Homo sapiens: one gene and its partners. The protein of the gene in region 1 interacts with the protein of each later gene in a pairwise test. Each region holds a gene or a part of one and is shown in the gene's direction. Other genes may lie near its edges.

Region 1 (7,192 bases):
GAGTCTTCTGACCAAGGGAACACAAGTTCTATCACTATTGGGGAATTGGGTTCCTGATATAATAGCTATTGTTTATTGAATTACATGAGGAAAATTTTACTATTCCTATCTTACAGATGAGGAAATTAAGGCTTAAAGAGTTCCCGTGTCTCACCGGCAGCCTCTCTCTCACTATGTGACCAAGCAAAATACACAGCTTTGTAGCTGTTTCTTGGTCCTGTCAGCCAAGCTGTATTTTGAGGAAGGGGTGTGCATTTTGGATGGATTGAAAAGCAAAAATGGCTTTACATTTATTCAGTCTTATAACAAACATTGATCGCTTTACTAGGTGTCAGGTACTGTGCTATGGATACATTGTTGATAAGGTTGGATGCTGTTCAGAGATTTTTTTAGTTTAGTCAGGAAGCCAGGCAGTGGAGTAGGCAATGAAATGAACTGTGATAAGGGTGACCATGGTGGAGTGTAGTGCACTATGGCAATATACAGCAGGGGTAGCTAACCTACTCTTGCAGTCTGGAAAGGCTTCTTCTGAGAGGGTGTAATGTCTAAACTGGGGAAGAGTTAACCAGAAGGAAAGGGGAGGCTAAGAGAGTGTTCCAAACAGGGAACTGCAGGTACAAAAGTCCAGGGGCAAGAGAGAGTACAGACAAGGTCCAGTTCTACTGCAGACTTTTGGGGAAGGGATAATGCTAGAGGAGAGGCTGGAGAGTGAGACAGACCTCATAATACAGAGTACAGACTTCAACCCAAGGGCAGTGAGAAATCATTGAAAGTTTGTTTTAGCAGGGAAATAAAACGACAGGTTTTGCCTACAGGCAGTCCCCAACTCAACGATGGTTCGACTTAGGATTTTTCAACTTTACGATGGTGCGAAATGATTCAGTATGCTCCTCACCTTATGATGCAGTTATATCAGATAAACCCATTTTAAGCTGAAAATATGGTGAAGTTGAAGAAGCACTTCTGCCTTACGATATTTTCAATTTATAATGGATGGGTTTATTCAGACATAACTCCATTGTAAGTCGTAAAGCTTCTGTACTGAAAAAAATCACTTGACCTCAGGGTATAAGATGGATTGCAGGGAGCAAGCCTTGGCCAGGAGACTTTTGCATTGGTTTCGGAGAGGAAAGACGGTGACTTGACATATATAGTGGTGATGAGGGGAGGACAGATTTGGAAGATGTTTAGGAAGCAGAATTAATAGAACTTGGTGATTGATAGGACTTGGTTGGATTTGAGGTTAAGGGAGAAGGAGGACATAGGGTTGACGCTCAGATTTCTAGTTTAAGCAGCTAACAGGATTGTGCCATTTACTCAGAGAATGTTAGAGGAGCCAGTTTCATGAGGCAGAGAAGATGAGATCAGTTTAGGATATTGGGTGCTTCTGAGACAGCCATTGGAGATGCTAGTAGTTAGTTGAGTTTTTAATTCCAAGAAAGACTGGGCTGGAAATATGGATTAGGGAGTCACCTGCATATACAGATTATAATTAAAGTCTTGGGAACGAAGAGGGCCTTTGGAGATCCCAGCTCCAGTTTAGACTGTGGAGAGGCCACCTGAGGTCATGAGCACTATTGGAGCATGCCCTATTAGCATATGCGTCTTCTACTTCTTCCCCTTCACTCATCTCTGCTTCCAGTTATCCCTTGAAAACACAGGCTGTTCATCCCAGTTGTGCCCATTGCTACCACCAACTCTTGCATGGGCCTCCTTTAATGGCCTCCCAACATTTCATAAGATTTCCTCTCGCATCCTCACCCCAAAGGATCAAAGCTTCCAAATATTAGTAGTTGTGTGGATATTTTGGATGTAATTGGAAGGAAGAATCAAAGTTCTCCTTCCTCATCTGGACACAGGAAAGGAGGGAACACATTATGGTTAATTCTGAAGATGTTGCTCACAGCAGGTTCTAGATGCAATCCGATAGCTCCCCTCTGTTCCTAGTGCTTTCAGTCCTCCCTGCTTCCACTCTGGTAGGAAACTCTCCTCAGGATCAGAGAAAAGCCGTGGCCTTGACCAGGGAAACAGAGGCTGATTCTCAGGGGAGATGAGGTCAGGGAGACAATGCAACTAGGACGAAGAAGCCAAATAGTTTGGCACAAATTAATTTCCCAAAAGATATTAACCTCGTTTCTTTCCACATTCCCTAAGGCTACACTAAGATTATAAAAGGTGTTCAAAATGTTGAGATGAAAATAATATGCATGACTTGTTTGCATATAATTTTCATACTCATTTACTATCTAAATACAAAGGAGTCATTTTCCTTCTCCATTCTACTTCCTCCACCCCTTGCCCCTGATGTTTTAGTCTGGGCAAAAGTAGTTGGCTGGTTTTTAAAAAATTTTTTTGAGACGGAATCTCCCTCTATCGCCCAGGCCTGAGTGCAATGGCACAATCTCGGCTCTCTGCAACCTCCGCCTCCTGGGTTCACGCGATTCTTCTGCCTCAGCCTCCCAAGTAGCTGGGACTACAGGTGCACGCCACCACACCGGCTAATTTTTGTATTCTTAGTAGAGACGGGGTTTCACCATACTGGCCAGGCTGGTTGCAAACTCCTGACCTCGTGATCCCGCCGCCTCTGCCTTCCAAAGTGCTGGGATTACAGGCGTGAGCCACCGCTCCCGGCCGTTGGCTGGTATTTAATTAGGTATGTTTAGCTTCATCTAGGGTTTCTTTAAAAAAAATTATTATTTATTTTTGAGAATTTTTTTGAGACGGAGTCTTGCTCTGTCGCCCAGGCTGGAGTGCAGTGGCCGTGATATTGGCTCACTGCAACCTCTGTCTCCCGGGTTCAAGCGATTCTCCCGCCTCAGCCTCTCGAGTGGCTGGGACTATAGGCGTGCGCCACCACGCCTGGCTAATTTTTGTATTTTTAGTAGAGATAGGGCTTCACCATGTTGGCCAGGCTGGTCTGAACTCTTGACTTCAAGTGATCCGCCCGCCTCAGCCTCCCAAAGTGGTGGGATTACAGGCGTGAGCCACCGCGCCCGGCTGCTTCAGCCAGGGTTTCTTTTCCTTATTCTTGATCCTTTTAAAATAGTCAATATCAGCCTCTTTTCCATCCTGATCATTTTCATTTGCAATTTCCTCTACACGGCATTTCTTTTCTTCCTCTTAATACTTACTCTGTATCACCAGTCTTCTGTGGACCAAAACCAAAGGGAGAAGGTGTTCGCTAGCCCTAAAACCAGGCCTTCGATCTCCACAGTCACCTGAAATGAGAAAAATCTCATTTCCCAACACCAGGGGGTGTCTATCCCTCTAACTGTCCTACCCTTAAGGTAGAGATTAGTCCCAAACCTTTTCCTCACTCCTTTTCACTGCTTCTACATACACACTATATCTCTTTCCCTCCCTCTCAAAGTAGAGATTAGTCCCATTTTCCTGACTCCTTTTCACTGCTTTTACAAATCACAAAACTTTTGGGTCCAGAAGGTGGTGCCTTTTTATTGCAGTTTATCTGTTTGTCTCTCATTCTCTCTGGACAAGCTTGTCCTTTCCTTTGTCTGCGCACCCTTCGGTCTCTGCATCGTCCACACTCCTCTTTGCTCCTCAGCTCTCCCTTTCTTTCGCTACCTCTTCCCTCTTCCACCTCTCTCTGTGGGCTTCGTCGCCTTTCAGGGCTATCTTTACGTACACGTCTCTGAACCTCTTTATGCATTTGTCTTCTTTCTCTCTGTCTTCCTCTTTATGGCTCTCTCCTTGTCTCACCATTTCTGTACCAGTCTCTCTCCATCTCTCCCACAGTCCCCACGCTGGGAACAAAGTCACGGTGCTAGCGCAGAACATGCCTCCTGTCGTCCGGTCCCGGGACGCGACACATTCCACCATGCCCCTCCGCGCATTCCAACTGCAGACAAAGAGTCCCCGTCCCCTACCCCCACACTCTTTCCTATTCCAATTCTTCAGTGTTGTAGGGGCAGCTGCCCCAACTGCCCCTGCCCGCCTCTCACGTCCAGTCCGCGGGTCTCCACATCCAGGGCAGTTAGCGCCTTCCGCTGCACGCACACCAGCTATCCCTGCGCGGACACCCCCGGCGCTCTCGCACACACCGCGCTCCGCCCCCCTAGGAAAGTAGATCCGGCCAGGCAGACAAAAGTTTGGGAGAGAAGTTCGGTCTGTGGCTAGCGTGAGAGCTAGGGGGGCGGGGGCCGGGGAGAGTGGGGCAGTCGGGCGAGTCGACGCGTGAACAGATAGACCTGCGGACTGGACAGCCGCGGCCAGAGACCCTGCTAGCCCCGCTCAGCCCCAGATGCGCGGGGGGACGCAGCCCCTCCCGCTGGGGGATGCTGTGGGATTCCTGGCGCAGGGCATCCAGGCCGCCCGCTAAGCCCCTGTGCCTCCCCTGTGCCCCTGGGGAACCAGAGTCCGGCTGCAGGGAAAGAGAACCGGCCGCCGAGACGCCGCAGGGTGCCAGGCGGGGAGGGGGCGAGAGGCCCCAGGCCCGAGGGCATGGAGCGGTTAGGAGAGAAAGCCAGTCGCCTGCTGGAGAAGTTCGGCCGCAGAAAGGGTGAATCTAGCCGGTCTGGGTCTGACGGGACCCCCGGGCCGGGCAAGGGGCGCCTAAGTGGGTTGGGGGGACCTAGGAAGTCAGGGCCCCGAGGAGCTACTGGGGGACCTGGGGATGAGCCGTTGGAGCCGGCCCGGGAGCAAGGTTCCCTGGACGCTGAGCGAAATCAGCGCGGCTCCTTTGAGGCGCCGCGCTACGAAGGCTCTTTTCCCGCGGGGCCGCCGCCCACCCGGGCCTTGCCTCTACCTCAGTCGTTGCCCCCCGATTTTCGGCTGGAGCCCACGGCCCCGGCCCTCAGCCCCCGCTCTAGCTTCGCCAGTAGCTCGGCCAGCGACGCGAGCAAGCCGTCCAGCCCCCGGGGCAGCCTGCTGCTGGACGGGGCGGGGGCTGGCGGAGCTGGAGGTAGCCGGCCCTGCAGCAATCGCACCAGCGGCATCAGCATGGGCTACGACCAGCGCCACGGGAGCCCCTTGCCAGCGGGGCCGTGCCTGTTTGGCCCACCCCTGGCCGGAGCACCGGCAGGCTATTCTCCCGGAGGGGTCCCGTCCGCCTACCCGGAGCTCCACGCCGCCCTGGACCGATTGTACGCTCAGCGGCCCGCGGGGTTCGGCTGCCAGGAAAGCCGCCACTCGTATCCCCCGGCCCTGGGCAGCCCTGGAGCTCTAGCCGGGGCCGGAGTGGGAGCGGCGGGGCCCTTGGAGAGACGGGGGGCGCAACCCGGACGACACTCTGTGACCGGCTACGGGGACTGCGCCGTGGGCGCCCGGTACCAGGACGAGCTAACAGCTTTGCTTCGCCTGACGGTGGGCACCGGTGGGCGAGAAGCCGGAGCCCGCGGAGAACCCTCGGGGATTGAGCCGTCGGGTCTGGAGGAGCCACCAGGTCCTTTCGTTCCGGAGGCCGCCCGGGCCCGGATGCGGGAGCCAGAGGCCAGGGAGGACTACTTCGGTGAGTGAGAGAAGTGGTTAGGGACGGGAAGGGACCCGTCACGGTATTCGGTTCTCCACTGCCCCGACGGCCCAAAGTGCCGGTGCCCCGGGGTCCGAGGTGAAGACGCGGGACTAGGAAAGAAGCAAGAGGGATGGATGGGGGCGGCCCCAGAGCACTGTCCCCTTCCTGCTAGTTTTCAGATGAACCAGGGCTCCTTATTTCTGCTAAATTCAACCCCCCTGGTATCTCGTGAGTCCGTTTCTCAAGCATTTGAACCTCGGTTTTTTGCGGCAGGAGGCCTCGTAGGGAAGGGACCAAGTGGGGCAGTGAAGGCGCATCCCCCCCAACTTGCTCCCCCCTTTCACGGCGGTGCCCCTGGAGGTTTGTGCGCGCCGCGCCCCCACCCGGGCCCAGGCTCCGCCCGCAGGAATTCGGAGAATGCGCGGGTGGGGGGGCGGGGCAGGCTGGCCGCGTGCGTGCCGACTCCTGCCCGGGCGCTCCAGGTGCCCGCGGGCGGGGCGGCTGCCGCCGCGCGGCGGAGGGGTGGGGTTCGGGGATCGGGGGACGCTCCCTAGCATACGCGGAGTAGTGGCGGCTGTCGGGGAAATGGAGCCTGGGAGACAGGATGGAGCGCCCTGGGACCCAACTGCTGTCCCTCCCCAGTCCTGTTGGCTAGGTGCGTGCGTGGGCATTTAATCAGAGACCCAGTAGTACCAGCTTCTATTTTCCCCATCCTCCGGAAGTCAGGGTAAAAGTCATGACTACTGGGACACCATTACCTCTGGATGGATAACGACCCTGTGTTATTGCCAGAAATAACTTGGCCTTGAATTCTGCTTATAACCTCTCAGAATTCAGGCCAGAAGTAGCGCCTTACTTCCTGACACTGTTAAGGAAACCTGGTCGCTGTCTCCCTCCCCTACTCTGTTCAGGAAGTATTGATTGATTATATGTCTCAGCTATGAGGAACATTAGGGTCTTGAAAGATCTTTTAGTCAAAATTCACAGGCACTGCTACACACATAAAAAACTTCGAATCTGATTGTGATTGGAAAGAAGTGGCAGGCTTACCGCCTAAGGGCTGTGGGCCTCTTTCACTTTTCTAAGCATCTCTTCTTACCACTCATGCCCCACTCCTGGACCCCATGCTGTAGAACTCTATGGCTAGAAAAGTGAATAGGAAGAGGAACGCGGCCAGGGAGGGATGGTTGGGTAGGAGGTTCAGAGGTAGCAGGGCGGCAGGCTATAAGGGCATAACTCAACCCCCAGCCTCCACCCCCATTCTTTTCCCCACCTCCAAATCCACCGAGAGGAAAGCCCAGAGGAGATGATGCCAAACCGCTTTGATCAAGGAAGACTGAATGACAGGGCCCATTTAGCAGTTTCATTTTGAGGCCCAGGAGAGGTGGCTAGTAAAGAAGTCTTTTTGGCTGAACCATCAGAGCCAAAAGGAAGAAAGGAACTCAGAGAAACTGCAATAAAATGGCAGGAAGAACATAGGTATAGATATGCTGGGTTAGAGGAGGTGAGGCCAACGTGCCTGAGCAGTTTCGTTTGCTTTTCCCATAACGTCCAAGGTTTCCTAAAGAATGGCTCCGACAGGACCCCCTGGCATGGCAATCTTGGGGCAGATCTTCACTTCCATGAGGAAGCCACATTTTGAATTCAGAGATGGGGGCCCCTTCTCCTTGGGAGTCAGGTTGCCTCCTTTGACAGAACCCCTACATACCCCTTGTGCCGCTAGCC
Region 2 (7,025 bases), on another chromosome or scaffold:
GGTGGATCCCATATCTTGGCCATTGTGAATAATGCTGCAGTGAACAAGGGGGTGCAGATGTCTCTTTGACATGCTGATTTCATTTCCTGTGTTATATACACAGAAGTGGGATTGCTGGATCATATGTTAATAGTTCTATTTTTAAATTTTTTTGAACCTCCATACTATTTCCCATAATGGTTATACTCCTCTAAATTCCCACCAACAGTGTACAGTGGTTCCTTTTTCTCCACATCCTCACCAACACTTACCTTTTCTTTTTGGTAATAGCGGTTCTAACAGGTGTAAAGTGTATCTATCTCATTGTGCTTTTGATTTGCATTTCTCTGATGACTAGTGATTTTGAGGATTTTTTTTCACATACCTATTGACCATTTATATGTCTTCTTTTCAGAAATCTTTATTCAGATCCTTTGCCCATTTTTCTTTCTTTCTTTTTTTTTTTTTTTTTGACATGGAGTCTCACTCTGTCGCCCAGGCTGGAGTGCAGTGGCGCGATCTCGGCCCACTGCAAGCTCTGCCTCCTGGGTTCACACCATTCTCCTGCCTCAGCCTCCCAAGTAGCTGGGACTACAGGTGCCCGCCACCATGCTTGGCTAATTTTTTATATTTTTAGTAGAGATGGGGTTTCACCGTGTTAGCCAGGATGGTCTCGTTCTCCTGCCCTCATGCTCCACCCACCTCGGCCTCCCAAAGTGCTGGGATTACAGGCATGAGCCACCTCGCCCAGCCCCTTTGCCCATTTTTAAGTTATTTGCTTTCTTGCTGTTGAGTTGCGTGAGTTCCTTATGTATTTTGGACATTAGCTTTTTCCCAGATACATGGCTTGTAAATACTTTTTCCCATTCTGTGAGTTGTCTCTTCACTCTATTGAGTTTTTAAATAGTTCTTTACTGCCCCTTCCAAAGAGGCAGCCTTCTTTGTTTTGTTTTTGCTGACCAATTTCCTTCCATTCTTTTCTTTTTCTTCCTATTTCTCTTCTTCCCGCGTCTTCCACCCAGCATCACATGTAGTGCTAGATTATGGGCATACGATGATAAATATAAGAGAGAGAGGAGAGAAAGAGTATGTGTATATATATGTGTTTGTGTGTTCTACTCTCAAGAACCACACAGGCTAGTAGGAATACAGACAACAGCAGGTAGTAATAATACGGCATGCTAAACATTGCACATTGAGTGGTATTTGGGTCCAGGAAACAGGCCCGTTTCCTTCTAGATGTCTTTTCCCCTGACTTCTGTGCTGTGGCACCCTTTACGTCCCCTCTGTCTTACTCCTTACATCCCCTTCCCTTAAATATGATAAGTTCCAAGTATTCTTCTATCTTTTGCCCACTTATATCTTGCTCTTAGCCTCCCATGGATTCTTATATACGCTTGTGATATTAACTCTTACGTCTATGCAAATTACCTCCAAGGTCTACATTTCCAGGATTAATGTCTTACCTCATTTCCAAACTATAATATAACTCGAATTGCCTTACAGAAATTGTAATGTGGCTATCTCATTCATACTGAACTTCCATTGTCCAAATCTGTTTCCCTCTACAAAAGATGATCTGAACAAACAACAAAAATCCATTCTGAGTTCTCTGTGTCAGTGAATGACTTTATTAGTTCATCCGTTACCCGATCTCTAGAAATCTCTGGGTCACTTTTAACCCTGAATTCAGCTCATCTTACCCGTTACACACTGGGCAATGAGTTAATTAGCTGATGAACATGATCTAGTATAATCTTTTCATTATGAGATAAGTATTATATTTCTCTGTTTTACAGATGAGAACCTTGAGGCCAGAAGGGTCAAATAACGTTTCTAAGGATGATACATGGCACCTAAGAGATCAACCTAGGATCAAACCAACATTAGTATCTCTGCGAAGTCTGGCCTATTGCCCATTATATTGTATTTTCTCTTCTTATAGTTGGTCTGATTGTTTCTTTTGTACCAGTGCTAACATACTTCACGTCCACATTTGTATTCTTGCTCCTTTTTTGTGACTTTATAATCTACATATATTTGTGACTAGGAAGATTTTATTAATAGTGTAGAAAAATTTTTCAGTAGGTTAAGCTAAAACAGGGCTCAGCAAACTCTATAACAGACCAGAGAGTGAGTATTTAGGCTTTGTGAGCAACACAATCTCTATAGCAGCTATTCAATCTTACCTTGATAGCAAGAAAGCCATGGCAAATGATAAATCAAGAAATGGCTGTTGCTGTGTTCCAACAAACTTTATTTGTAAAAACAGACTATGGGCAAGGCACGATGGCTTAAGCCTGTAATCCCAGCACTTTGGGAGGCTGAGGTGGGCAGCTCACTTGAGGCAGGAGTTTGAGACCAGCCTGGGCAATGTGGCGAAACCTCATCTCTACAAAAAATACAAAAGCTAGCCGGGCATAGTGGCTTGCACCTGTAGTCCTAGCTATCTCTGGGGCAGGGAGCCACTGGAGCCTGAGACAGGAGGATCACTTGAGTCTGGGAGGTTGATGCTCCAGTAAGCCATGATCATCCCACTGCACTCCAGCCTGGGTGACAGAGTAAGACCCTGTCTCAGAAACAAAAAAAAGCCAAAGCCAAAAAAAAAAACCCCAAACAGACTACTGTGGGCAGATTTGGCCCTTGGGTCTGTAAATACTTATTTCATTTTTACTATCTAAGCTAATGTGTTTTATTGGATTTACTTATTCATGCATTTATTTATGTATTTAAAAACACATTGATGTATAATCTCAATTAGATAAAATAGAAGTTAAGGGAGGTCCTTGCAGAGATACCATTTGAACTTAACAATCTTGGACCTTTGATTGAGAAGTATACTTTCTTTTTTTTTTTTTTTTTTTTTTTTTTTTTAGTGAGGCAGAGTCTCACTCTGTCACCCAAGCTGGAGTGCAGTGGTGCAATCCTGGCTTACTGAAGCCTGAACTCCTGGGTTCATGCAGTCCTCCTGCCTTAGCTCCCCAGTAGCTGGGACTGCAGGTGTGTGCCACCATACCCGGCTAATTTATTAAATAAAATTTTTTTTTTTTTTTTTTTTTTGTAGAGATAGGGTCTTGTCATGTTGCCCAGGCTGCTCTCAAACTCCTGGGCCCAAGTGATCCTTTCGCCTTGGCCTTCCAGAGTGTTAGGATCATAGGCGTGAGCCACCACACCCTACTGAGAAATGCACTTGACCCCTGGACAACTGATTACCCTCCCTCAGTCAGTTGAAAATTCCTGTATACCTTTTGACTTCCCCTAACTTAACTATTAATTGTTAACTGGAGGCTTTACTGATAACATAAACAATTGATTAACACATATTTTGTATGTTATAGGCATTATATACTGTATTACAATAAACTAGAGAAAAGAAAATGTTATTAAGAAAATCATGAGGAAAGAAAATGTATTTACTATTTATTAAGTGGAAGTAGATCATCCTAAAGATCTTTATTCTTATCTTCATGTTGAGTAGGCTGAAGAGGAAGAGGAGGGGTTGGTCTTGCCTTCTCAGGGGTGGCAGAGGTAGAAGAGATAGGGGAGGCGGAAGGGGAGGCAGGAAGGGCAGGCACACTCAGTGTAACTGTTACTGAAAAGAATCTGCATGTAAGTGGATCTGCACAGTTCAATCCATGTTGTTTGAGGGTCAGCTATATTTGAATTGCCAAGAATTCTGAACTGTCTCATGGCTAGCTAGGCATATGAATTTATGCTAGTTACGTGATCTTTTTGAGCTTTATATTCTTTGTTGGTAAAGTGGTACGAACAATACTTACATCACAGAACTGTTGAAGGGATGAAATGGAAGAACAATGTATTAATAGAAGTATGAATGTCGTTGGTCTTATCCTCCTGGGTCTCTTATGTATTTCCAGATGATATATTTCTTATAGAGAAATTCGATAGAGGTAGAAGGAAAGGAAGTCACTTCTCAGATAGAAGTGGGAAGGCTCTCCTAGTCATCCATCTCTCTCTGTTAGAGATAGTAACAGAAAGGACAGATACTTTTCTGTGTGGGGTGAATGACAGTGGAGAATGTAAGCAGGGCTGAGCAGATAGATAGAAGGCCTGAAAACCAGGGCAAGAACCTCAAACTTTCATCGGCAAGCTGGGGGTTGCGTGAGGAGAGCAAGGAAGGGACACGAGGCTGGGGCACATCCCTGGGAATGGAACCCAAGTGTGGGTTTGGATGTGTGAAGAGCTGGAAACTGGGAAGGAAAAGCATCGACAGCAGCCCACAAATAACTGGATCAGAAGCACCTTTCCGAGAACAATTCTGAACTTTGTCTAACACATATGCCTTTGGGAGGAAGAAAGCTTTTCTTGTGTTTTGGCAAGGGTGCTGAGCTAGGTAGCTAATAACCTAACAGTTTGATTTTGTGCCAAGATGTGTAAGGCTGCATATGCATGTTTAAAATTCATATCCACTGCAGTGACAAGTCACTGAACACTAGATGGGAAGACATTTCAGTTGAAGCTCAGCCAAAAGCCCTTTTGAAACAACTCTGACAAAATAACGCCATAAGTGAATAAAACCAGAGAGTTCCTGGGTATCTTTGAAAATGTCTCCCATGATGACAGTCTCAGACAAAGGTGCTGTGCACAGCTTCTAAGAAGCAATCACACACAAGCACAGCCATTCAACTTGCAGCTAGATTTCCTCAGTTCCAATTTGGAGTCAGGTGGATTGTGTTGTCCAGGGACAGACTGTGCTTTTGATAGTGACTTGGAACAATATAATTCTTTGCTAATGCAGCTTCATATCATGAAGTTACATATTTTCTTGGTATGATTGCACGGCCCTTGAAGTAAAACAGCCACATAGTTGTATGCTTTAAAATAGCCCGGTAGGGAAGAATTCCACATTTTAGAAGATGGATTTTTATAATTTAAGTTTGTGAATGTAAATTATTTGTGAACAATGGGATGTGACATCTCAAGACTCTCCTTATTGGGATCCCTGAGTGAGTTTAAAACTGGCTTCTGTGGCAGTGGGAAGAAGACACTGTGTGAGTGGTTCACAGCCCTTTGCGGTTGTCTTATTGAACTCTTTCAATACCTTAGAGTTTTGCCAGTTATACTTAGGTCCTTCTCACCTCATCCGTGACTTGAACCGCCTATACTAGATGACAGCTGAGGTGACTTTCAGCTGTAAAGTTTGGCATTTTATTTACTTAAAAATCTAGGTCAGTGCTCTGCCTTCTGGCTGCTCTGTCACTCTTCCCCAACAAGTTTAGTCCTGTTTCTGGTTAATTGTGGGTGTGTAGTAGAAATTTGCCCTTTTGCCAAAGGTGTAATTGAGAGGATGCCACAAAGGTATTAAGTTTAAGTGACATGACCAGATGTGAGAAGATTTGCATTTACAGCTGTCCATTGATATAGTCTATCACTTTGTACAATATTTCCTGAGATTTTCTATTTTATCTTTAAAATATTAAAGTTAACCACAATCTAAAGTGGTGTATTTTGTTTAAAACTTTTTAAAAAAATTAGTAATGTCACTTTGTGATCTAGTGAAGTAATACAGAAGTTATGCTATGTCAAAGATAAAGAGAACTCTGTAGTTATGAGGATGGTCGGCAGAAATGTGAAGGATGGCTCTTAAATCTCTTCTCTTCCACTCTCCTTCGGAAGCCTCTGTCTAATCATTTGCTTCCTTTATTAGTGGGACCCTTAATAGGGTCCAATTAAGTTCTGTATTTTAGGGGATCTCTCTGAAGTTTTTTGGTTCTATAATGTAAAGGTTGTCGTGTTTACAGTTTTTTTCCACATCACGAGTTCAGGACATGATAACATAATAAACGAGGTTTTCTACAAAGCCAAGGATCTGAATGACAAAGGAAGGACAACTAGAGATTAGGGATATAAAAGTGACTTCCAGGAATCTTTTCATTTAGTGTATTAAGTATCACATGTCTGTCAGATTTCTTTAATTGGCTCTTTCAGCTGTGTGGAGGTCGTAGTGGGGGAAACATGCCAGTAGGACAAGAGGGAGCTGGTGGGAGATGCAAAGAACACACTTGCTTTCCACAGAGTGACACCTGACTTGTGCTTTGCCTGTGTGCTCTTTCCAGAACCTGTGAGAAGTTTCTACAATGGTGGGCTCAGCTCTCAGGAGAGGTGCCCATGCATATGTCTACCTGGTGAGTAAGGCCAGTCACATCTCCAGAGGCCATCAGCACCAGGCCTGGGGATCGAGGCCTCCTGCAGCAGAGTGTGCCACCCAAAGAGCTCCAGGCAGTGTGGTGGAGCTGCTGGGCAAATCCTACCCTCAGGACGACCACAGCAACCTCACCCGGAAGGTCCTCACCAGAGTTGGCAGGAACCTGCACAACCAGCAGCATCACCCTCTGTGGCTGATCAAGGAGAGGGTGAAGGAGCACTTCTACAAGCAGTATGTGGGCCGCTTTGGGACCCCGTTGTTCTCGGTCTACGACAACCTTTCTCCAGTGGTCACGACCTGGCAGAACTTTGACAGCCTGCTCATCCCAGCTGATCACCCCAGCAGGAAGAAGGGGGACAACTATTACCTGAATCGGACTCACATGCTGAGAGCGCACACGTCTGCACACCAGTGGGACTTGCTGCACGCGGGACTGGATGCCTTCCTGGTGGTGGGTGATGTCTACAGGCGTGACCAGATCGACTCCCAGCACTACCCTATTTTCCACCAGCTGGAGGCCGTGCGGCTCTTCTCCAAGCATGAGGTGAGTCTTGAGATGTTTCTCATCGCTGAAGGATGTCATAGACATTTTATGTTGAGGTCACTAACATTTAGCTCGATGAGACCAGCATAGTCATCCTTGCTTGCCTTATTTTGCCTTAGTGAATCATCCATACTTAATGACATCTTGTGTATAGGTGTGCCCCAGTACTTTTTGACCGCTTTGTTGTGTTAGTAACTACAGAAATTGGTAAGCCTTAGTTTCCAGTTGTCTGTCCTTATCCTTTCTCTCAATACTGACCCGCCATTCTCTGGGTTACTTCTTATGAATGGAGAATAGTCTGTGGCTCAAATTCACCTTTAATCCAGGATGGCTGAA
Region 3 (6,363 bases), on another chromosome or scaffold:
AGGCATGCACCACCACACCTGGCTAATTTTATTTTTTTGTAGAGACAGGGTCTCACTACGTTGCCTAGGCTGATCTCAAACTCTTAGGCTCAATGATCCTTGGCCTTGACCTCCCAAAGAACTGGGATTACTGTGCCTGGCCCGGGGTGGGTTCTGAGCGGACTATCTTACCCGCAGCCAGCTGATTCAGTCCGCCCCGGTGTCCCAGAGAGCACCCCTCCATCACTCTCTGGGGGTGGCCTGGCATCTTTTGCAGCAGGGGAGGGATGCAGTTTCCACTGGGGCCCTCTGGAGATGAATGATGAAGAGGGCGCCTTGGCCGAGCCTGTCCCTGTCCTCTCTGGCAGCCTTGCCAACATTCCACTAACCCCCGAGACTCAGCGGGACCAGGAGCGGCGGATTCGGCGGGAGATCGCCAACAGCAACGAGCGGAGACGCATGCAGAGCATCAACGCGGGATTCCAGTCCCTCAAGACCCTCATCCCCCACACAGACGGAGAGAAGCTCAGCAAGGTGGGTGAGAGCAGGGAGGGCTTCCTGGAGGAGCCGGCAGGTTCCCGCTGGGAGAGGAAAGTGAGCTCTGGTAAACACTGCCAGCCTGACTCTCGGCTTTTCCACGCCCTCAGGCAGCCATTCTCCAGCAGACAGCCGAGTACATCTTCTCCCTGGAGCAGGAGAAGACCAGGCTCTTGCAGCAGAACACACAGCTCAAGCGCTTCATCCAGGTGCGCCCTGTCCTTCATGGCTCCCTCTCCCTGGCATGGGCATGCCTTGGACCCAGCCATGGGCCTGGGACTCAGGTGTGGCTGCAGGCCCCTTCTTGCCCACTGACAAGTACTTCCAGGCACTTTTTTTCCTGCCCCGGCCTCAGTTTCCCCATCGGTCAAGTGCGGTGGAGTGGGCTCTGGAAGGAGCCAGGTGACTGTTATGTAAAGCAGCCCATTCTCCTGGCATTTGGCTGGTTTGTTGGACTTGCAGAAGGGGCTCCCTAATGAAGATTCACCTGTGTTGGGCAGCTTTGGGGGGCTGCGATGGAACCCCAATCTCCGTGGTGGTACCGAGGTGTCAGGCACACTGACCGACTCCTTGGGGTCCCCAGGAGCTGAGCGGCTCGTCCCCCAAGCGACGGCGGGCAGAGGACAAGGACGAAGGCATAGGCTCCCCGGACATCTGGGAGGACGAGAAGGCGGAGGACCTGCGGCGGGAGATGATTGAGCTGCGGCAGCAGCTGGACAAGGAGCGCTCGGTGCGCATGATGCTGGAGGAGCAGGTGAGGCAGCGCCCTCTGCTGGGCACGGCGCGCGGTGCAGAGGGCGTGGAGCCTGGGGTCGCGCCTCTTGCTCTGCGGCCCTCGGTGGAGCCCTATTTACAGGAGCACCTACTGCGGTGCCAGGCCTAGGAGTGGGGAGCAAGCCAGACACGTCTCTGCCCTTGGGGGCCACCGTCTGCGTTGGGGTGGGGGAGATTAGCCAAAGGATCTCAAAAATGTAACCATGCTGTGGGAGGCCGAGGCGGGTGGATCACCTGAGGTCAGCAGATCGATACCATCCTGGCTAACACGGTGAAACCCCGTCTCTACTAAAAATACAAAAAAAAAAAAAATTAGCCGGGCGTGGTGGTGGGTGCCTGTAGTCCCCGCTGTTTGGGAGGCTGAGGCAGGAGAATGGCGTGAACCTGGGAGGCAGAGCTTGCAGTGAGCCGAGATCGTGCCACTGCACTCCAGTCTGGGAGACAGAGCGAGACTCCATCTCAAAAAAAAAAAAATGTAACCGTGATGGGCTGGGTATGGTGGCTCACACCTATAATCCCAGCACTTTGCGGGGCTGAGGTGGGAGGATCGCTTGAGCCCAGGAGTTTGAGATCAGCCTGGGAAGCATAGTGAGACTCTGTCTCTACCAAAAAAGATACAAAAATTAGCCAGGTGTGGTGGGGTGTGCCTGTAGTCCCGGTTACTCAGGAGGCTGAGCTGGGAGGATTGCTTGAGCCCAGGAGGTGGAGGCTGCAGTGAGCCATGATTGTGCCACTACACTGCAGCCTGAGTGACAGAAGGAGACCATGGCTCAAAAAAACCAAAAAACAAAAACAAAAAACCATATTGAAGGCCAGGCTGGAGCTGTGGCATCAGGAGGGGTTTTTCAAGGGACGCCCCACGGCATCTCCATGGAAGTGGGAAGTTGAGTCTCATAGTTAACCAAAGGACAGAGAAAGGTGTTCCCGGCAGAGGGAATAGCATAGGCAAAGACTCGGGCAGGAGGGAGCATGGTCCAGTGGAGGCCGAGGTGGGAGGCGAGAGGAGCCGGGGGCTGAAGGGCTCTGGAAAGGCTTCTGGCCTCTGTTGAGAGGGGCCCGCCCTGTGCTAGGGTTTTCAGCAGGAGTGAATGAGCTGCTGTGAGACTGACAGGGCAGGGTGTGCTCCCGGCCTTGGCCCTGAGCCCAGGTTGTCCTGCCTCCAGGTGCGCTCGCTGGAGGCCCACATGTACCCGGAAAAGCTCAAGGTGATTGCGCAGCAGGTGCAGCTGCAGCAGCAGCAGGAACAGGTGAGGCTGCTGCACCAGGAGAAGCTGGAGCGGGAACAGCAGCAGCTGCGGACCCAGGTGAGCAGGAGGCGCCCGGGAGTGGGCTCTGGGGACCGGGAAGGGGACAGGTGATCTTGAATGGCGGAAGCCTCTCCCTAGGCCACGTCCTCTCTGCTTCTTAATATAAAGGGGCAGAGGCAGTTATACATTGGCCAGCTCTGCATGAAAGGGAGGTGGATGGGCCAAGAGAAGCCTTGAGAGAAAGGCTGAGGGCCTCTGTCTTGCAGCTTCTGCCCCCTCCGGCCCCCACCCACCACCCCACGGTGATCGTGCCAGCACCGCCTCCTCCTCCCTCCCACCACATCAATGTCGTCACCATGGGCCCCTCCTCGGTCATCAACTCTGTTTCCACATCCCGGCAAAATCTGGACACCATCGTGCAGGTACCTGAGCTTGAGAAAGGGGCAGCTTGTGGGGGTCATACTCCGGGAACAGGCTCTTTAGGGGAGACTGGAAAAGAGGGGCAGAAGCGGAGGAAGATGGTGCTTGTGTGGGAAGGGGTGGAGGGCTGGAAGCCTTGGGGGGCCCCGTCCCTGGATCTGCAAGTGGAGAATGTGAGGGCCAGAGATCGGGGCAGGGCCTACCACGCCAGTAGGAGGAGTTGGCCAGGAAGACTGTCCCTTCCCTCAATATGGGGTTTCCGGAGAGGGTCCTTTGCTCCCAGAGCCCCCTGGTTACAGAGTTCCTGCATCCAGCTCTTGGGTTGGTCCGGAACATTGTCTCAGCTCCATCTCCTAGGACCTGGATGGAGATACAGGTGGCAGGGCTGGTGATAGTTGGGCCTCCTACAGAGGAGGAAGCTTTGTGGGTCAAGCCTGAAGTTACAGTTGCATTCACCCTTGAACAGGGCCCCTTGAGGAGCCCAAGATCAGAAATCAGTAAATAATAAATAAATAACCAAAAAAGCCAAAACAGGAAAAAAAATCCATCAATCTCCTCGAATTTTAATTGCTCATAAACTTTGCAAATTGTGTAATACAATTAATAACAAACGCCTTTAATAAGTTAATAGGCAAGCTTTAAAATACATAAACATATGGCCGGGTGTGGTGGCTCACACCTGCAATCCCAGCACTTTGGGAGGCCAAAGTGGGTGGATCACTTGAGGTCAGGAGTTCGAGACCAGCCTGGCCAACATGGTGAAAACCCCATCTCTATTAAAAATACAAAAATTAGCCTGACGTGGTGGTGCACGCCTGTAATCCCAGCTATTCGGGAGGCTGAGGCAGGAGAATCGCTTGAACATGGGAGGTGGAAGTTGCAGTGAGCTGAGATTGCACCACTGAACTCCAGCCTGGGTGACACGGTGAGACTCTTTCTCAAAAAACAAACAAACAAAAACATATGAAAGGTCCATATTATTTCTTTTTTTTTCTTTTTTTTTGAGATAGAGTTTCGCTCTTATTGCCCAGGCTGGAGTGCAATGGTGCTATCTCAGCTCATCGCAACCTCCTCCTCCCAGGTTCAAGTGATTCTCCTGCCTCAGCCTCCCAAGTAGCTGGGATTATAGGCATGTGCCACCACGCCTGGCAAATTTTGTATTTTTAGTAGGCTTCTGGCCTCTGTTGAGGGGCTGGTCTCGAACTCCTGACGTCAGGTGATCCTCCCGTCTTGGCCTCCCAAAGTGTTGGGATTACAGGCGTGAGCCACTGCGCCTGGCTGATACATATAATATAATTTCTAAGCAGCACTGGGACTGTCATCTTCCCAGAATGGATTTTTCAACTTAACAGAGGGGTTTTGAAAGTTTGTTCCTGGGTCAGGCGTGGTGGCTTATGCCTGTAATCCCGGGACTTTTGGAGGTTGAGGCAGGAAGATTGCCTGAGGTCAGGAGTTCGAGATCAGCTTGGGCAACATAGCAAGAACCCCCTCGTCTCTACCAAAAATACAGAAGTTAGCTGGGGATGGTGGCGCACCCCTGTGGTTCCAGCTACTAGGGAGGGAGCAGTAGGAGGATCGCTGGAGCCCAGGAGTCTGACTGCAGTAAGCTATGATCATGCCACTGCACTCTAGCCTGGGTGATATAGCGAGAGCTTGTCTCCAAAAAAAAAGTAAAAGGAGTTTGTTTTTCCTGTACTCTAGCGGGCCTCCCCTGCTGCTTTGCCAGGCTTTTTTCTGGGCTATGTGTTTTGGGGGTGACAGTGGCTGGCTGAGAGCCCCCACTGTCTCCTGGCTGGCCATGTATCCCCGGCCGAGCCTTCTCAGTGGTTCGTCCCTGTCCAGGCAATCCAGCACATCGAGGGCACCCAGGAAAAGCAGGAGCTGGAGGAGGAGCAGCGGCGAGCTGTCATCGTGAAGCCTGTCCGCAGCTGCCCGGAGGCCCCCACCTCTGACACCGCCTCCGACTCCGAGGCCTCAGACAGTGACGCCATGGACCAGAGCCGGGAGGAGCCGTCGGGGGACGGGGAGCTTCCCTGACTACCCCCCCAGCCCTCCTCTCCCTTCTGGGGGCTGGAGGGAGCCGGGGCAGCCACAGGGAGAGACATGGGCGAATGAGTGAGAAATTTTTACAAAATTACGATGTCATTTGGGTCTCTTTTATGACCTCTTTTTCAATACTGTAAATCGACCTTTGAACGAAGCCACTCAACCCGAGGTCCCGGGGCTGGGGTGTCGCAGAGCGTGTGGGAGCATCGGCACCCCAGGGCGGGGCCTCGGCCCCGGGGGCTGGAGGAAGCTGACACGGAGATGCCTGGCCTCTCTCTGCCAAAAAGCATTTTTTCCTTTAAATATGTTTTTTAAGAACAGGGAAAATTAAACAAAACCCCAGGTTATTTCTTCCCTGCCCAGAGCCAGCCTGGGATTGTCAGCCTTCAATCCCCTTTCCTTCCTCTTTTTGGGTTTTCTTCTTTCTCCTTTAAGCACTTACATGGTTGGGGGTAAGACTAGGCTGGGGCATTCTGGGGGCCCGGAGGTCTCCGTTGCTTCTTGGTTGGGGTTTGCTGCTGCTGTGCCCCCCTCCCCCTTCCCCATCTCGGCACTAGAATTCGCCACTCTCCCACCCCCCAGCCCCCACCTCTGCCTCCAGGTCTCATCTTCCACCCCAAAAATGTCTGTCTCTCTCTTTTTGTTTTGTTTGTTGTTGGTTTTTTATTTCTTTTTGGTTTGCTTTCTGTTTTTGTTTTGTTTTTCTTTTTTTTCTTTCTTTTTTTTTTTTTTTTACAATTTTGAGGTCTTCGTGTTCAAGGAGAAGCTATTATATTTTGTTAAGAAAGTGGGGAGAAAAAAACCAAGAGGCCACCGTGCCTTTGTAAAGAAACAAAATAAAGTTTGTACTTTGTTTTTTAGATTCTGAGTCTCCTGGGTGTGGGCTGGCCTGAAGACCAGGGCAGGGCTACCCCATCTAGAGTAGGGGGGCTCCTTGGGCCCCCCAAAGCGGACTGGGTGTGTGTGAGCACAGTTACTCCCTCAGCTTGTGTGTGGTGTTGCGATGAAAAATTGGGGTCCTCAGTTTCCCTGGGATGACCCTGGGTATTCTGTAAAGATGGAAGATGGTGTTGAGGCTGGGGAGTGGCTCTTTGGTGGGCGGCAAGGAGAGAAGGACAACCAAGCCACCGATTCCGAAAACCTGGGAAAGGACACAGGTGTTCAGGGGCCCTGCTTGGTCCCTACGCTTTGGTTAATCCCTAGGTTTTGCCACTTCCTGGGCTTCTGTAACTTCTCTGAGCCTCATCCTCTCCTCCCCTAGGAGGGGAACCCCACCCCCTCCAACCGCACCCCCCCAGCACCCCCCTGCCCCCCCGTGGTGTGGTGTTTAAGTGCTAAGATCCTGGAATTGGTCTGCCAG
Region 4 (7,025 bases), on another chromosome or scaffold:
TGAAGTGTCCAAACTCAGGGTGCTGGCTGGAGTTCCCCAGCATCTACGGGCTCAAGTACCATTACCAGCGGTGCCAAGGGGTAAGGGACTGTGGGTCGGGGGAGAGGAGGCCTCGGGGTGTGTTTGGGCAGAGGCCCTTGGGGCCCTGTCCCAAACCTTCCCTTCCCTGCCCAGGGTGCCATCTCAGATCGCCTGGCCTTCCCCTGCCCCTTCTGCGAGGCCGCATTCACCTCTAAGACCCAGCTGGAGAAACACCGGATCTGGAACCACATGGACCGACCCCTGCCTGCCTCCAAGCCTGGGCCCATCAGCAGGCCGGTCACCATCAGCCGGCCTGTTGGGGTCAGCAAGCCCATCGGAGTGAGCAAACCTGTCACTATTGGCAAACCTGTGGGTGTCAGCAAACCCATTGGCATCAGCAAGCCAGTCTCGGTCGGCAGACCCATGCCAGTCACCAAGGCCATCCCGGTCACTAGGCCCGTGCCAGTCACCAAACCTGTCACAGTCAGCAGGCCCATGCCCGTCACCAAGGCCATGCCGGTCACCAAACCCATCACAGTCACCAAGTCTGTGCCGGTCACCAAACCCGTACCTGTCACCAAACCCATTACGGTAACAAAGCTTGTGACAGTTACGAAACCCGTGCCGGTCACCAAGCCAGTGACAGTCAGCAGGCCCATTGTGGTCAGCAAGCCGGTGACAGTCAGCAGGCCCATTGCTATCAGCAGACACACACCGCCCTGCAAAATGGTGCTGCTGACCAGGTCGGAGAACAAAGCACCTCGTGCCACAGGGAGGAACAGTGGTAAGAAAAGGTATGGGGGCTCGTCCCAGGTCGGGGAGGAACAGTGGTAAGAAAAGGTATGGGGGCTCGTCCCAGGTCAGGGAGGAACAGTGGTAAGAAAAGGTATGGGGGCTCGTCCCAGGTCGGGGAACAGTGGTGAGAAAAGGTATGGGGGCTCGTCCCAGGTCGGGGAGGAACAGTGGTGAGAAAAGGTATGGGGGCTCGTCCCAGGTCAGGGAACAGTGGTAAGAAAAGGTATGGGGGCTCGTCCCAGGTCAGGGAACAGTGGTGAGAAAAGGTATGGGGGCTCGTCCCAGGTCGGGGAACAGTGGTAAGAAAAGGTATGGGGGCTCGTCCCAGGTCGGGGAGGAACAGTGGTAAGAAAAGGTATGGGGGCTCGTCCCAGGTCGGGGAGGAACAGTGGTAAGAAAAGGTATGGGGGCTCGTCCCAGGTCGGGGAGGAACAGTGGTAAGAAAAGGTATGGGGGCTCGTCCCAGGTCAGGGAACAGTGGTGAGAAAAGGTATGGGGGCTCGTCCCAGGTCGGGGAGGAACAGTGGTGAGAAAAGGTATGGGGGCTCGTCCCAGGTTGGGGAGGAACAGTGGTGAGAAAAGGTATGGGGGCTCGTCCCAGGTCGGGGAGGAACAGTGGTAAGAAAAGGTATGGGGGCTCGTCCCAGGTCGGGGAACAGTGGTAAGAAAAGGTATGGGGGCTCGTCCCAGGTCGGGGAACAGTGGTGAGAAAAGGTATGGGGGCTCGTCCCAGGTCAGGGAACAGTGGTGAGAAAAGGTATGGGGGCTCGTCCCAGGTCGGGGAACAGTGGTGAGAAAAGGTATGGGGGCTCGTCCCAGGTCGGGGAACAGTGGTGAGAAAAGGTATGGGGGCTCGTCCCAGGTCGGGGAACAGTGGTGAGAAAAGGTATGGGGGCTCGTCCCAGGTCGGGGAACAGTGGTGAGAAAAGGTATGGGGGCTCGTCCCAGGTCGGGGAACAGTGGTGAGAAAAGGTATGGGGGCTCGTTCCAGGTCAGGGAACAGTGGTGAGAAAAGGTATGGGGGCTCGTCCCAGGTCGGGGAACAGTGGTGAGAAAAGGTATGGGGGCTCGTCCCAGGTCGGGGAGGAACAGTGGTGAGAAAAGGTATGGGGGCTCGTCCCAGGTCAGGGAACAGTGGTGAGAAAAGGTATGGGGGCTCGTCCCAGGTCGGGGAACAGTGGTGAGAAAAGGTATGGGGGCTCGTCCCAGGTCAGGGAACAGTGGTGAGAAAAGGTATGGGGGCTCGTCCCAGGTCAGGGAACAGTGGTAAGAAAAGGTATGGGGGCTTGTCCCAGGTCGGGGAACAGTGGTGAGAAAAGGTATGGGGGCTCGTTCCAGGTCAGGGTGCTCCTCGGCCACGGCCTGGGGGTAATGGGGCCCACAGTTAGGCCCTCCTGGCCCTCACCTCACCTGCTCCCTGCAGGGCTGCGGACAGCCTGGACACCTGCCCAATTCCACCCAAGCAGGCCAGGCCAGAGAATGGGGAGTACGGCCCCTCCTCCATGGGCCAGAGCTCGGCCTTCCAGCTGAGTGCAGACACCAGCAGTGGCTCCTTGTCGCCAGGCAGCAGGCCGTCAGGGGGCATGGAGGCACTGAAGGCTGCAGGCCCTGCGTCCCCGCCTGAGGAGGACCCGGAGCGCACAAAGCACAGTAAGATGAGAGCTCCAGGGGTGGCGGCCGGGGCAGGCTCGGCCTCCTGACGGTTATTTCACCAGAATCTTGGCCCCCGTTTTCTCTCCCCGAGTCAGGAAGGAAACAGAAAACACCCAAAAAGTTTACAGGGGAGCAGCCATCCATCTCAGGGACCTTTGGGCTCAAAGGTAAGACCCCAGCCCGGTGTGCACCTCCAGGGCTGGGGCTGTCCACCGAGTGACAGCCCCTGAGCCCATCCCTGTTTCTCTCCACCCCATGTGTGCACACAGGCCTGGTCAAAGCTGAGGACAAGGCCCGAGTTCACCGCTCCAAGAAGCAGGAGGGGCCAGGCCCTGAGGACGCCCGGAAGAAGGTGCCAGCTGCCCCCATCACTGTCAGCAAGGAGGCACCGGCCCCTGTGGCCCACCCAGCTCCAGGTAGGGGCTGCCTGGCAGGGGCTCAGGGCAGCTCTAGACGGCGGGTAGATCCCACAGCACAGGGATGGGGGCTGAGTGTGGAGACTGGATTCTGTGCCTGGCGTCTGGGCCACCCAGCAGCCCCCACAAGCCTTCGAGGCCCCTGCCTTACCCACAGGTGGCCCTGAAGAGCAGTGGCAGAGGGCCATCCATGAGCGCGGGGAAGCCGTCTGCCCCACCTGCAACGTGGTCACCCGGAAGACTCTCGTGGGGCTTAAGAAGCACATGGAGGTGTGTCAGAAGGTAAGGCAGCTCCCGGAAGGCGCTGGGAGGGAGGCGCCCTGGCCCCAGGCAGGCTTCTCACATGTGGGCCATCTGCAGCTTCAGGATGCACTCAAGTGCCAGCACTGCCGGAAGCAGTTCAAGTCCAAAGCCGGCCTCAACTACCACACTATGGCCGAGCACAGTGCCAAGGTACCGTCGGGCCCCCAGCTCCCGTCCAGCGTGACCTCTGACCTCGCACCCCACCTTCACCGCAGTGCCCCCGGTTTCTAACCTCGGACAACGGTGGCCCAACACCTGGGCGGGGCGGGGCCAGGGCAGGGCTCCGTGGCGATGGTGCCGGGTCACCGATGCTCACCCTGTCCCCAGCCCTCTGACGCCGAGGCCTCCGAAGGGGGCGAGCAGGAGGAGCGCGAGAGGCTGCGCAAGGTGCTGAAGCAGATGGGACGGCTGCGCTGCCCCCAGGAGGTCAGTGGGGGGCCGCGGCAGTGTGGGGTGGGGGGGCCCTGCTGGCCACTCACCCACCCTCTGGCCTGACCCCCAGGGTTGCGGGGCTGCCTTCTCCAGCCTCATGGGCTACCAGTACCACCAGCGGCGCTGCGGGAAGCCGCCCTGCGAGGTGGACAGCCCCTCCTTCCCCTGCACCCACTGTGGCAAGACGTACCGATCCAAGGCTGGCCACGACTACCACGTGCGCTCGGAGCACACGGCCCCCGTGAGTGGCTCTCTGTTCTGTGGCACAGTGCTTGTTCCTGTGTGCCGTGTGTGTTCCGTGTGCCTTGGGTGCCAACTGTATTTGTCCATGTACCGCCCAACGCGTGTGTTTCCCACCCCTCTCTGTAAGAGACGTGTGTCCTGGTGGGCGGGAGGGTGAAACCTCCGTGTTCCCTCGGGTTGCCTGCGTCAGCCATGTCCCCAGCACACTGGGAGGCCTGTGGGTCCACCGGCCTTAGGGTGGCCTCGCCGCGCGCTGACCTGACTCTTGCTCCCGCGGCTCACTCTAGCCTCCATGCCTTCCTGCCCTCCAGCCCCCTGAGGAGCCCACAGACAAGTCCCCTGAGGCTGAGGACCCGCTGGGTGTGGAGCGGACCCCAAGCGGGCGTGTCCGCCGCACGTCGGCCCAGGTGGCGGTGTTCCACCTGCAGGAGATAGCGGAGGACGAGCTGGCCCGCGACTGGACCAAGCGGCGCATGAAGGATGACCTTGTGCCCGAGACCGCACGGGTGAGCTGCCCCCCCCAGGGCTGTGGACAGCGCCGTGGCCTCTGCGTGGGGCATGCCTTGGCCTGAGACTTGGGACAGCCACTGCTGTGACCTGGGCCACCCGCTGCCCCCGCCATCTGCGGCGAGTGTCGCCTGCTGCCGAGGCGAGTGTTCTTAGAGCAGCTGGGGTGTCTTCTGGCCTCAGGCTCACCCTGGTGCTGTCGAATTCACAGCTCAACTACACTCGACCAGGGCTCCCCACGCTGAACCCCCAGCTGCTAGAGGCATGGAAGAATGAAGTGAAGGAGAAAGGCCACGTCAACTGTCCCAACGACGTGAGCGGAGGCAGCCGGGTGGGGGGCGTGGGGAGCCATACAGGGCCAGAGCCTGGGTGTGGCCCTCTGAGCAGGAACAGAGGCTGAGAGCTTTCAGGAGGTGCCCAAGCCCACCCCAGGCCTCACATGCCCAGCCTGCCCAGTCCCCAGGACTCACACCCCCTCACTTGCCCCAAAGAGCCTCAGAGATCCCCTGGGGTAGGGCAGGGGTATATCTTGGTGTGGGGTGCCCACCAGAGGCCTTCGCCCACGGCTCCCTTCCCTGCAGTGCTGTGAAGCCATCTACTCCAGCGTGTCCGGACTCAAGGCTCATCTCGCCAGCTGCAGTAAGGTCAGTTCTGGGGCCTGCCCCACGGCCAGGTGCGCTGCACTCAGAGCTCCCAGCTCACCCCACGCGGGCTTCCCACACAGTAGTGAGGGACCCTGCCTTGTCCCCTACTTTTTCTACGTGGCCTCCTCTTCCACGAACCCAGAGACTGGCCGGTGGCTGATGGCCAGCCTAGGACACCTCCCTCGCCCCAACCCCAGCCACAAGACAACGAGTCCTAGTCCTGTCCTTGGAGCTCTGCGTCCATGTAGGCATGGGTGGGCACCCCGACCCACGCAGATGGCACACTGGCTTACAATAAGGGATGCTCGGCAAAGGTCTGCAACTCTTCCCCTGGGCACCTGCCTCTCCCTACCCTTCCTCTCCCCTACCACCCCTGCCGCCCTGGTAACTCAGTGGCCCCCTGCATTGTCTGGCACAGACAGCCACAGCTTTCCTTGGGCCACCGCTGACTCTGACCCTTTAGCCATGAGTAGGGGCTTAGGACAGATCTGGGTCCTCCAAGGGCTGGGGCACTGGCCTGCCTATGCATTGCAGGGGGCCCACCTGGCAGGGAAGTACCGCTGTCTGCTGTGTCCGAAGGAGTTCAGTTCTGAGAGTGGCGTCAAATACCACATCCTGAAGACCCACGCAGAGGTGCGAGGGCCATCACCAGGGCCTGTGGCTGGGGGCTAGCCCAGGAGGGGACAGGGCTGGGGTTGGGCACCCCTTGGGGGTAGAGAGGTCAGTGGCCTGCATGGGGTGTGCCTGGGAGAGTGGCCAATGTGGAGAAATCTGGTAGTTTCTCCTCAAAGTGGGGTCTGGCTTCCCTGGGAGAACTGGGAGGCTTGCACCCTGAGCTGGAGCTGCCCTCGGGGTGTCCGCCTTTCCAGCCCCCAGCAGCCCTGCTGCAGGTGCTTGCCTGGTCCCGAAGGCTGTGTCCAGCCCTGCTGCAGGTGCTTGCCTGGTCCCGAAGGCTGTGTCCAGCCCCCTGCAGGTGCTTGCCTGGTCCCGAAGGCTGTGTCCAGCCCCCTGCTGCAGGTGCTTGCCTGGTCCTGAAGGCTGTGTCCAGCCCCCTGCTGCAGGTGCTTGCCTGGTCCTGAAGGCTGTGTCCAGCTCCCTGCAGGTGCTTGCCTGGTCCTGAAGGCTGTGTCCAGCCCTGCTGCAGGTGCTTGCCTGGTCCTGAAGGCTGTGTCCAGCCCTGCTGCAGGTGCTTGCCTGGTCCCGAAGGCTGTGTCCAGCCCCCTGCAGGTGCTTGCCTGGTCCCGAAGGCTGTGTCCAGCCCCCTGCTGCAGGTGCCTGCCTGGTCCCGAAGGCTGTGTCCAGCCCTGCGGCAGGTGCCTGCCTGGTCCTGAAGGCTGTGTCCAGCCCTGCGGCAGGTGCCTGCCTGGTCCTGAAGGCTGTGTCCAGCCCTGCGGCAGGTGCCTGCCTGGTCCTGAAGGCTGTGTCCAGCCCTGCGGCAGGTGCCTGCCTGGTCCTGAAGGCTGTGTCCAGCCCCCTGCTGCAGGTGCTTGCCTGGTCCAGAAGGCTGTGTCCAGCCCTGCTGCAGGTGCTTGCCTGGTCCCGAAGGCTGTGTCCAGCCCTGCTGCAGGTGCTTGCCTGGTCCCGAAGGCTGTGTCCAGCCCCCTGCAGGTGCTTGCCTGGTCCCGAAGGCTGTGTTCAGCCCCCTGCTGCAGGTGCCTGCCTGGTCCTAAAGGCTGTGTCCAGCCCTGCTGCAGGTGCTTGCCTGGTCCTGAAGGCTGACAGGTCTTCAGCTCTCAGGCTATGCCTGGCTCAGGTGCTCAGCATCCAGTCCCAGGTCTTCATCAGCGCTTTTCTCTCCCCAGAACTGGTTCCGAACATCAGCAGACCCACCTCCCAAACACAGGAGCCAGGACTCATTGGTGCCCAAGAAGGAAAAGAAGAAAAATCTGGCAGGTGGAAAGAAGCGGGGCCGAAAGCCCAAGGAGCGGACCCCAGAGGAGCCTGTGGCCAAGCTGCCCCCGCGCCGGGACGACTGGCCTCCAGGATGCAGAGACAAGGGGGCCCGGGGCTC

Evidence for each region.
Region 2: the proteins of AJUBA (region 1) and FARS2 interact in binary tests that used the Homo sapiens proteins (3 or more experiments, as listed by UniProt).
Region 3: the proteins of AJUBA (region 1) and TFAP4 interact in binary tests that used the Homo sapiens proteins (3 or more experiments, as listed by UniProt).
Region 4: the proteins of AJUBA (region 1) and ZNF512B interact in binary tests that used the Homo sapiens proteins (3 or more experiments, as listed by UniProt).

The regions. Positions count from the first base shown.
Region 1 is NC_000014.9:22,979,533-22,986,724, reverse strand, and holds the start of AJUBA (LIM domain-containing protein ajuba), read left to right. Parts: upstream 1-4,173; 5' UTR 4,174-4,458; coding exon 4,459-5,464; intron 5,465-7,192.
Region 2 is NC_000006.12:5,362,494-5,369,518, forward strand, and holds part of FARS2 (phenylalanine--tRNA ligase, mitochondrial), read left to right. Parts: intron 1-6,056; 5' UTR 6,057-6,077; coding exon 6,078-6,689; intron 6,690-7,025. UniProt on the Homo sapiens protein: Is responsible for the charging of tRNA(Phe) with phenylalanine in mitochondrial translation.
Region 3 is NC_000016.10:4,256,686-4,263,048, reverse strand, and holds the end of TFAP4 (transcription factor AP-4), read left to right. Parts: intron 1-347; coding exon 348-513; intron 514-626; coding exon 627-725; intron 726-1,099; coding exon 1,100-1,270; intron 1,271-2,453; coding exon 2,454-2,594; intron 2,595-2,803; coding exon 2,804-2,959; intron 2,960-4,799; coding exon 4,800-4,994; 3' UTR 4,995-5,863; downstream 5,864-6,363.
Region 4 is NC_000020.11:63,959,931-63,966,955, reverse strand, and holds part of ZNF512B (zinc finger protein 512B), read left to right. Parts: coding exon 1-80; intron 81-174; coding exon 175-815; intron 816-947; exon of another isoform or gene 948-1,400; coding exon of another isoform or gene 1,401-1,444; intron 1,445-1,452; exon of another isoform or gene 1,453-2,051; coding exon of another isoform or gene 2,052-2,092; intron 2,093-2,239; coding exon 2,240-2,466; intron 2,467-2,560; coding exon of another isoform or gene 2,561-2,564; coding exon 2,565-2,636; intron 2,637-2,738; coding exon 2,739-2,885; intron 2,886-3,042; coding exon 3,043-3,167; intron 3,168-3,245; coding exon 3,246-3,338; intron 3,339-3,515; coding exon 3,516-3,614; intron 3,615-3,690; coding exon 3,691-3,861; intron 3,862-4,174; coding exon 4,175-4,369; intron 4,370-4,581; coding exon 4,582-4,683; intron 4,684-4,951; coding exon 4,952-5,014; intron 5,015-5,548; coding exon 5,549-5,647; intron 5,648-6,816; coding exon 6,817-7,025. UniProt on the Homo sapiens protein: Involved in transcriptional regulation by repressing gene expression. Associates with the nucleosome remodeling and histone deacetylase (NuRD) complex, which promotes transcriptional repression by histone deacetylation and nucleosome remodeling.